Linked DNA regions of Homo sapiens. The protein of the gene in region 1 purifies or fractionates together with the protein of each later gene. This does not show direct contact. Each region holds a gene or a part of one and is shown on either strand. Other genes may lie near its edges.

Region 1 (3,500 bases):
AAGCTCATTCCTCCCAACATTTTTTTTCTTTTTTTTTTTTTTTAAAGAAACAGTATTAAGTACATTCCCCTGGGACAAAGTGCAAAAATCAGGAGGAACCGGGACGTCTGCCTCTAGCCCCCACCCCACTACTCCCCTGGGAAGGAATGAATGGATCATCCCAGAAGTTACTCTCCCAGGGATGCACATATAAGCAAATATGTACACGCATGCGTCCTCCTCTCTTGACGCCGGGAGCCAGCCAAGTCTTCTGTCTAGCTCAGGCGTCTTCAGCTCCGCAGGCCCTGTGGTCTCTGCTGCACCTACTCAGTGCTGCACGGATCACTAGAGACAGCCAGAAGGATCCGCCAACAAAAAAACGCCCAGTAAAATGTCCCAGTAAAACATCAGTGACCAAAGCAGGTGGCCAGCCAGATTTGGCCCTTGGGCCCGAGGGCACAGACCCCTGGCTCACATGGGCCTCTCTGCCCCTGGCTCTGACACTCAGTCTAGGCTGGAGCACGCTTGCCAATAGCCCTGCTCCTGGCTCCTCTGTGTGGGGACCATGTGCACCGCCAGGCTCCACAGGCCTGTGGCACAGACCCTCCTCCCCACTGCGAGAGGATGGGGGCAGTGCGCAGGAGACGGGCTCTCCGTGATGGCAGAGCCGCCCCCAGGCAGCACGTCCAGGGCACTCGGGGAGCTGCTAGAGCAAGGGCATACCAGGCCTGCCATGTTTCAAAGCTCAGTGCATCTGAGGTTGGCACCGTGACAGCCATCCATCCTCAGGGACAACAGCCATCTTGTGGCCTGCAGGGTTTGCAGGGCCATGTTCTTACCCAGGGGCACAGGGCACAGCCCAGAGCCTGCAGACAGCTCCATGGTGGCCAGCCTTGCTATGGCACAGATGCCCCAGTGCCCACCGGCACCAAAAGCCCATGGCTCAGTGCTCACCAGTGGGAGAGAAGCGGAGTGAGGTCACCCTGATCTCAGGTTTGAAGTGCCGAGAACTCATGTCACCTGGGGAAAAAAGAACCGTTAATGATCACTGGACAGCATATCCAGGCTGCTCTCCCCACGAAGCAAGTCATCCTGCGGTCTCCCGGCTGGCTGGGGGGTGCTGTGGGAGCCCCATCAAGAGCAGCAGCCTCTACTCATTGGGTCCTGCACAAAGCGGAGGCAGAAGCAGCCCTTCCCTCGCTGCAGCTGCGGCAGGTGGGCCCGTGCTGGGGCCGCGGAGGCTGTTCCGGGTGAGCTGCCAAACAGATGGCCCAGCCCATGGGGCAGATGCTCAAAAAAGCCAGCCCGGCCAGCAGACTGTGTGTCCAACCCAGAAAAGGGCCCCAGCCCAGCCCAGGAGTGGGTCTGCTGTGCTCAACACGGTACCCTGGGCCTGCATATGGAAGCACTCAGGGTTTCTGGCTGGCGAGTGTCCCATCAGGATGGTCTACCTGGGACCCAGATCTTCTAGAGCACCTGGCTCTCTGTGCGGCGCACATGGCCTCACGCCAGAATGCTCCGTGTGCTGTGCAGCAGACGGGGCACCCAGTCCCAAGAGCAAATGGACGGGTCCCGCCAGGGCAGGGAGGCCACGTGTAGCAACACATGGGCAGCTTCTCCTGCCCAGGGGCTGACGGCACCAGCACCAACCCACTGGGCCTTTGACACCCCCAGTGTCCAGCAAATGTCACCATGTAGTAACTGTTATTTCCACACACTGCAGCCCCAACCAGGGGCATGAATGCGTGGTCACCCAGGACCGGTGAGTGGTGGGCAGATGCGGGAGGAACCTCTGCTCACCTTTCCTGACGCCTGGCAGTGGTATCGCGACTCCATCCTCCTGCCCAGCATCCTGATCAATTAGTGCCAGGTTGCCAAACTCTGTCATTTTTCTTCGGTTCAAAAATTCCTAGAACAGCAAAAGCAGTGGACGCCTTGCTTCTGATGGCCTGGCCGCCTGGCCCTCGTCTCCTACCCTTGCTCTTTGACCCCAACACCAGACAAGCCTCAGCCCTGTCTAGAACAAGGACGGGGAGAGAGCCCTGCAGTGCCCCAGGGACTCTTCCTGCAGAGCTAGCTGCAGACAGGGTGGGTGTGGAAGCTGTGGAGCAGGGCAGGTGCGGAGGCTGCGGAGGGGGATGGACTGAGGTCTACATGCTGGCATTGCTGCCACCATCACAAAGGCTGGGGCTCACAGCGAGGATGGCCGTCTACTCCCTTGTGAAAATGCCAAGGACACTTTCCCCCAGAAACATTTAGGGGACAGTGGGCTTCTGCCCCGATGGGGCGTGGACAGGTGAACCCAGCAGCCACACCCCTGCTTAGAGGCTACCAGGGCTTCCTCACTCTCATTCTGAGGTCCTGCAGGAGCCAGCATGTGAGTGGGACCTGAGCCGAGGGCTGTGCTGAGGGGGAAGGGCAGGCACCAGTGGGGACAGTGAAGGCAGAGCCTTGTACACAGGACCCCGGGCAGGAAGCCATCGGGCAGGGCCTACCAGCACCCTCTTCGTTCACTCCTTCCCTGACAGATGTCCGTGTCTCCTGAGCCAGCGTGTGCTGGGCACTGCCCCTCACAGCTCCAGCCTCCTAGCAACCAGCCTCGGCAGGGTCATCCACAGCAGTGGTTCCCAACCCCTGGTACTGGCCCATGGTCTGTTAGGAAACAGGCTGCACGGCAGGAGGTGAGTGGTGGGCAGGTGAATGAGTGAAGCTTCATCTGAATTTACAGCCGCTCCCCATTGCTCGCATCACCACCTGAGCTCCGCCTCCTGACAGATCAGTGGCAGCATTAGATTCTCACAGGAGTGCGAACCCTATTGTGAACGACACGTGAGGGATCTAGGTTGCACCCTCCTTCTGAGAATCTAATGCCTGGTGATCTTGATCTGAGGTGAAACAGTTTCATCCCAAAATCAATCCCCCCAACCCTGTCTGTGGAAAAATTGCCTTCCACGAAACCGGTCCCAAATGCCAAAAGGGTTGGGGACCGTGGCTCCACACACAGCTGAGGCAGGTGCTGGCTTCACGGCCGGACTCTGCTGGGGCAGGTGAGGGGCCCGTGCACTTAGATACAGGACAAGCACCACAACTGTGCCCAAGGCCCCATGGAGCCAGGAGTGCAGAACGCAGGAGCCCGACGCATTCCACCTGCATTGGAAGCAACATCCATCCGGCCCCGCGCTGGCGGCTCACCTCCATGGCGTCCAAAGACAGGTTGCAAGAGATCTCGAACCTCTTCATGAGAATCTGCTCACGGACGTGGTAGATGCACACGAACTTGGACATGCCTCCCGCCAGGATGCTGTGGCCGTCTGCAGAGTAGCACAGGGCGGTGAAGGCCCTGGGTGGAGAGGAGACATGGACTTACGGTGGCCACCACGGAAACCTCAGCGTATGGCTCCTAAAAACCAACTTTAGGCCTGCATGGTGGCTCCCGCCTGTTATCTCAGCACTTTGGGAGGCTGAGTTGGGAAGATTGCTTGAGTCCAGGAGTTCAAGACAAGCTTGGACAATATACCAAG
Region 2 (3,500 bases), on another chromosome or scaffold:
GATCTGTTTGAGCAGTGACACTCCATTGGTGATGATGAAGGTGGCGCGGCTGAGCTTCGTGGAGGCATGGATGAGGGCCTCCACGGCCACCAGCTGGTCCGTCTCGCGCTCTGAGCCACATAGTGCCACCATCATCTCCATCACACCTTTCAGTCCCAGCAGCTGGTTGCCCAGGTCAAAGGGGCCCTGCAGGATCCCTGACACTGTCTGGATGGCATTCAAGTTCTTGTCCATGTCCTGGGGGTCAAACTTGCCCCTAAAACAAAGGACAAGGGTGGTCAAGAGAACTGGTCCAAGAGAGTGGAAAGAGTGTGAGATTTGGAGGCAGTAGGATTTGGATTTGCATCCTGGCTCCACCACTCATGTGCTGTGTGATATTGGGCAATTCAGCGAACCTCTCTGAGCCTCAGCTCCTGTAAACTGAGGATAGTACTACTAGTTCTCAGAGTTGTGGTGAGGATAAATGACATAACAGCTGTGTCACAGAGTGTGCCTCTGGGAAATACACTCTGACTCAGGGATTGACATGCAGGAAGTTTATTAGAGAGAGCTCTTGGGAAGAGAAGGAAGCAGGACTGGGGCAGAGGGAGGCATTTTGCAGCTATCACAAAGCCTCAGCCTCCAAGAAGTTCTGGAGCTGGAAGACCCTTCACAGTTGTTCCAAGTTAGAGTGAGTCTTTTTCTTTCTTTTTTTTTTTTTTGAGACTGAGTCTTGCTCTGTTGCTGGAGTGCACTGGTGCCATCATAGCTCACTGTGACCTCAAACCCCTAAGCTCAAGCAATCCTCCCACCTCAGCCTCCTGAGCAGTTGAGACTACAGGTGCACACAATCATGCTCAGACAATTGTTTAAATTTTTTTGTAGAGATGGGATCTTGCTATGTTGCCCAAGCTGATCTCAAACTCCTGGCCTCAGATGATCTTTCCACCTGGCCTCCCAAAGCACTGGTATTATAGGTCTGAGTCACCTCAACTAGCCTGGTGTGAGTGTTTGCATACTGGCTTCCCTGGGAAGGGTGAAACAGCTCTCCCCAGGTGAGACAAGTCCCAAAGAGAGATAACAGCTGAGAGCTGTCAGCTGACAGCCTTTCCAGCAGCTGCTGTGTCTGGGAGGACAGTACAGCATTGACAACAACACAAAAAGGCCTAGCGTGATGCCCGGCACACTGTGTCTCTCTGTGACATGGCCTGGGCCAGTCACTCCCCTCTGGTGATCTGGTCTTAGTCCCTTCCCCTGTTGGTGAGCATGTGGGCTAGATATCCAGGAACGTTCTGCCTTGCTTTCAGAATCTATTATCATCTACTCTAGGGGAGAATCTCTGCGTGGGAATGTCAGAGGTGACATGCCTTCTGATGCTTCTCATCTGCCCAGGTTGGTGCATTGTGGGAAACAGGGCAGATGTGCACAGTGGAAATGCAGCTGTGTATAAATGCAAGAAGGCAGCGTGGACTGGTCAGGAGAACTCCACACCAAGAGTCCAAGACCTGGGCTCTGGTCCCATGTCTGCCTCTGATTGCTGGAGGATCTCAGGCAAGTTCCCCTGGGGAAGAGGACTCAGCTTTGGAAGCTCTGACAGCCCCTCCAGCTTGAGCATCCCATGTCCTGTGCCTCATCTCTCCACTCAGTGCCCAGGGAACCAGCATCCTTCGTAATTAGTTGCGGTCTGACCTTTGAGCTGGCACTGGGTCCCCACACAGCCCCCGCCCCTGATGAAGCGGGATGTATTCCACTCTTGCTAGGGGCAGGCTGGGGCACCATTTGATGAAGGCAGTGACCCCTCCTCTCAGCATTCCACAGGCTGACAGGAGGGAGCCTCAATCAACAAGCCCAAACAAGAACTAGCTGGATGACAGGTAATGGGAGTCAGTTGGGGACCTCATGAGGGACTCAAGAAGTCAGCAGGAAAAGTTGAAACTGAGGTAGAGAAAGACAGAAGCCTTGAAAAGACCTAAGTGAACCAAAGTCAGGGTGAGCAGAAGCCGTGGGGTAGAGAAGGAGTTGGCAAATCCAGGGAGTTGAGAATAGCTTTCACATTATTTTATTTTATTTGAGACGGGGTCTCACGCTCTTGCCCAGGCTGGAGTGCAGTAGTGCATTCAAGGCTCATTGCAGCCTTGACCTCCTGGGCTCAAGTGATCCTCCTACCTCAGCTTCCCAAGTAGCTGAGACTACAGGGGTGTGCCACCACACTTGACTCATTTTTAATTTTTTTTTTTTTTTTTTTTTTTTTAGAGATGAGGGTCTCTCTACATTGCCTGGGTTGGTCTCAAACTCCTGGTCTCAGGCAATTCTCCCACATCGGCCTCCCAAAATGCTAGGATTACAGGCATGAGCCACCACACCTGGCCAGCAGCTTTTTGCCTTTCTTTTTTCTTTTTGAGATGGAGACTTGCTCTGTCACCCAGGCTGGAGTGCAGTGGTGCGATCTTGGCTCACTACAACCTCTACCTCCTGGGTTCAAGCGATTCTTCTGCCTCAGCCTCCCTAGTAGCTGAGATTACAGGCATGTGCCACCATACTCGGCTAATTTTTGGTATTTTTAGTAGAGATGGGGTTTCACCATGTTGGTCAGGCTGGTCTTGAACTCCTGACCTCAGGTGATCCGCGCTCCTCGGCATCCCAAAGTGCTGGGATTACAGGCGTGAGCCACTGTGCCCAGCCAGCTTTTTGCATTTTAAAGGATTTTTAAAAATATGTTGACAGAGACTTATCTGTCCCACAAATACTAAAATATTTACTCTCTGGCCCTTCATAGAAAAAGTTTGTTGACCCCTGGAATATAGAAAGGAAAAGCAGAGTAAAGGCAACGTCTTCACCCACCTAAGACTCACCTGGAGTGCTTTTAAGCATGCAGCTTCCTGAGCCACACCCCAAACTACCGAGTCAAGAGGGGATGTCTCAGAAATCTGAATAATTTACAAGTCTGGGAATCACTGCAATAAAGAATTAAAAGGTCATGCACTGGAGTCACACTGATGCTGGAGCACCAGTGAGGAGACTCAGGAACTGCAGCTGCTGAGGGTCCTAACCCCTGTCTAGCTCTGCAAAGCCACATGAGTCTTAGTCTTGAAAGAACCGGGCCTCCCTCCTTGACAAGCTGACATGTGTTCCTTTCAACCACAGAAGCCAGTGGTAGGTATAAAATATGTCCATGGCTGGGCAAGGTAGTTGATGCCTGTAATCCCGGCACTTTGGGAGGCAGAGGCAGGAAGATTGCTTGAGCTTGGGAGTTCAATACCAGCCTGGGAAACATAGCAAAACAAAAAATACAAAAATTAGCCAGGCGTGGTAGTGCACACTTATAGTCTCAGCTACTTGGGAGGCTGAGGCAGAGGCAGGAGGATCGCTTGAGCCCAGCAGGCTGAGGCTGCAGTGAGTCATGATCATGCCACTGCACTCCAGCCCGGGTGACAGAAAAAAAAAAAAATTAGCCCAGCATGGTGGCAAGTGCCTGTAGTCCCAGCTACCCTGGGAGGCTGAGGTAGGAGGATTACATGAGC

What was found. Proteins that work in one complex are often made in the same cells at the same time.
Region 2: the proteins of PWP2 (region 1) and UNC45B purify together in Homo sapiens (affinity purification with mass spectrometry; one large-scale study listed by BioGRID and IntAct). This does not show direct contact.

Annotation. Positions count from the first base shown.
Region 1 is NC_000021.9:44,124,399-44,127,898, reverse strand, and holds part of PWP2 (periodic tryptophan protein 2 homolog), read right to left. Parts: intron 3,320-3,500; coding exon 3,172-3,319; intron 1,889-3,171; coding exon 1,780-1,888; intron 1,000-1,779; coding exon 934-999; intron 1-933. UniProt on the Homo sapiens protein: Part of the small subunit (SSU) processome, first precursor of the small eukaryotic ribosomal subunit.
Region 2 is NC_000017.11:35,164,817-35,168,316, reverse strand, and holds part of UNC45B (protein unc-45 homolog B), read right to left. Parts: intron 257-3,500; coding exon 1-256. UniProt on the Homo sapiens protein: Acts as a co-chaperone for HSP90 and is required for proper folding of the myosin motor domain. Plays a role in sarcomere formation during muscle cell development. Is necessary for normal early lens development.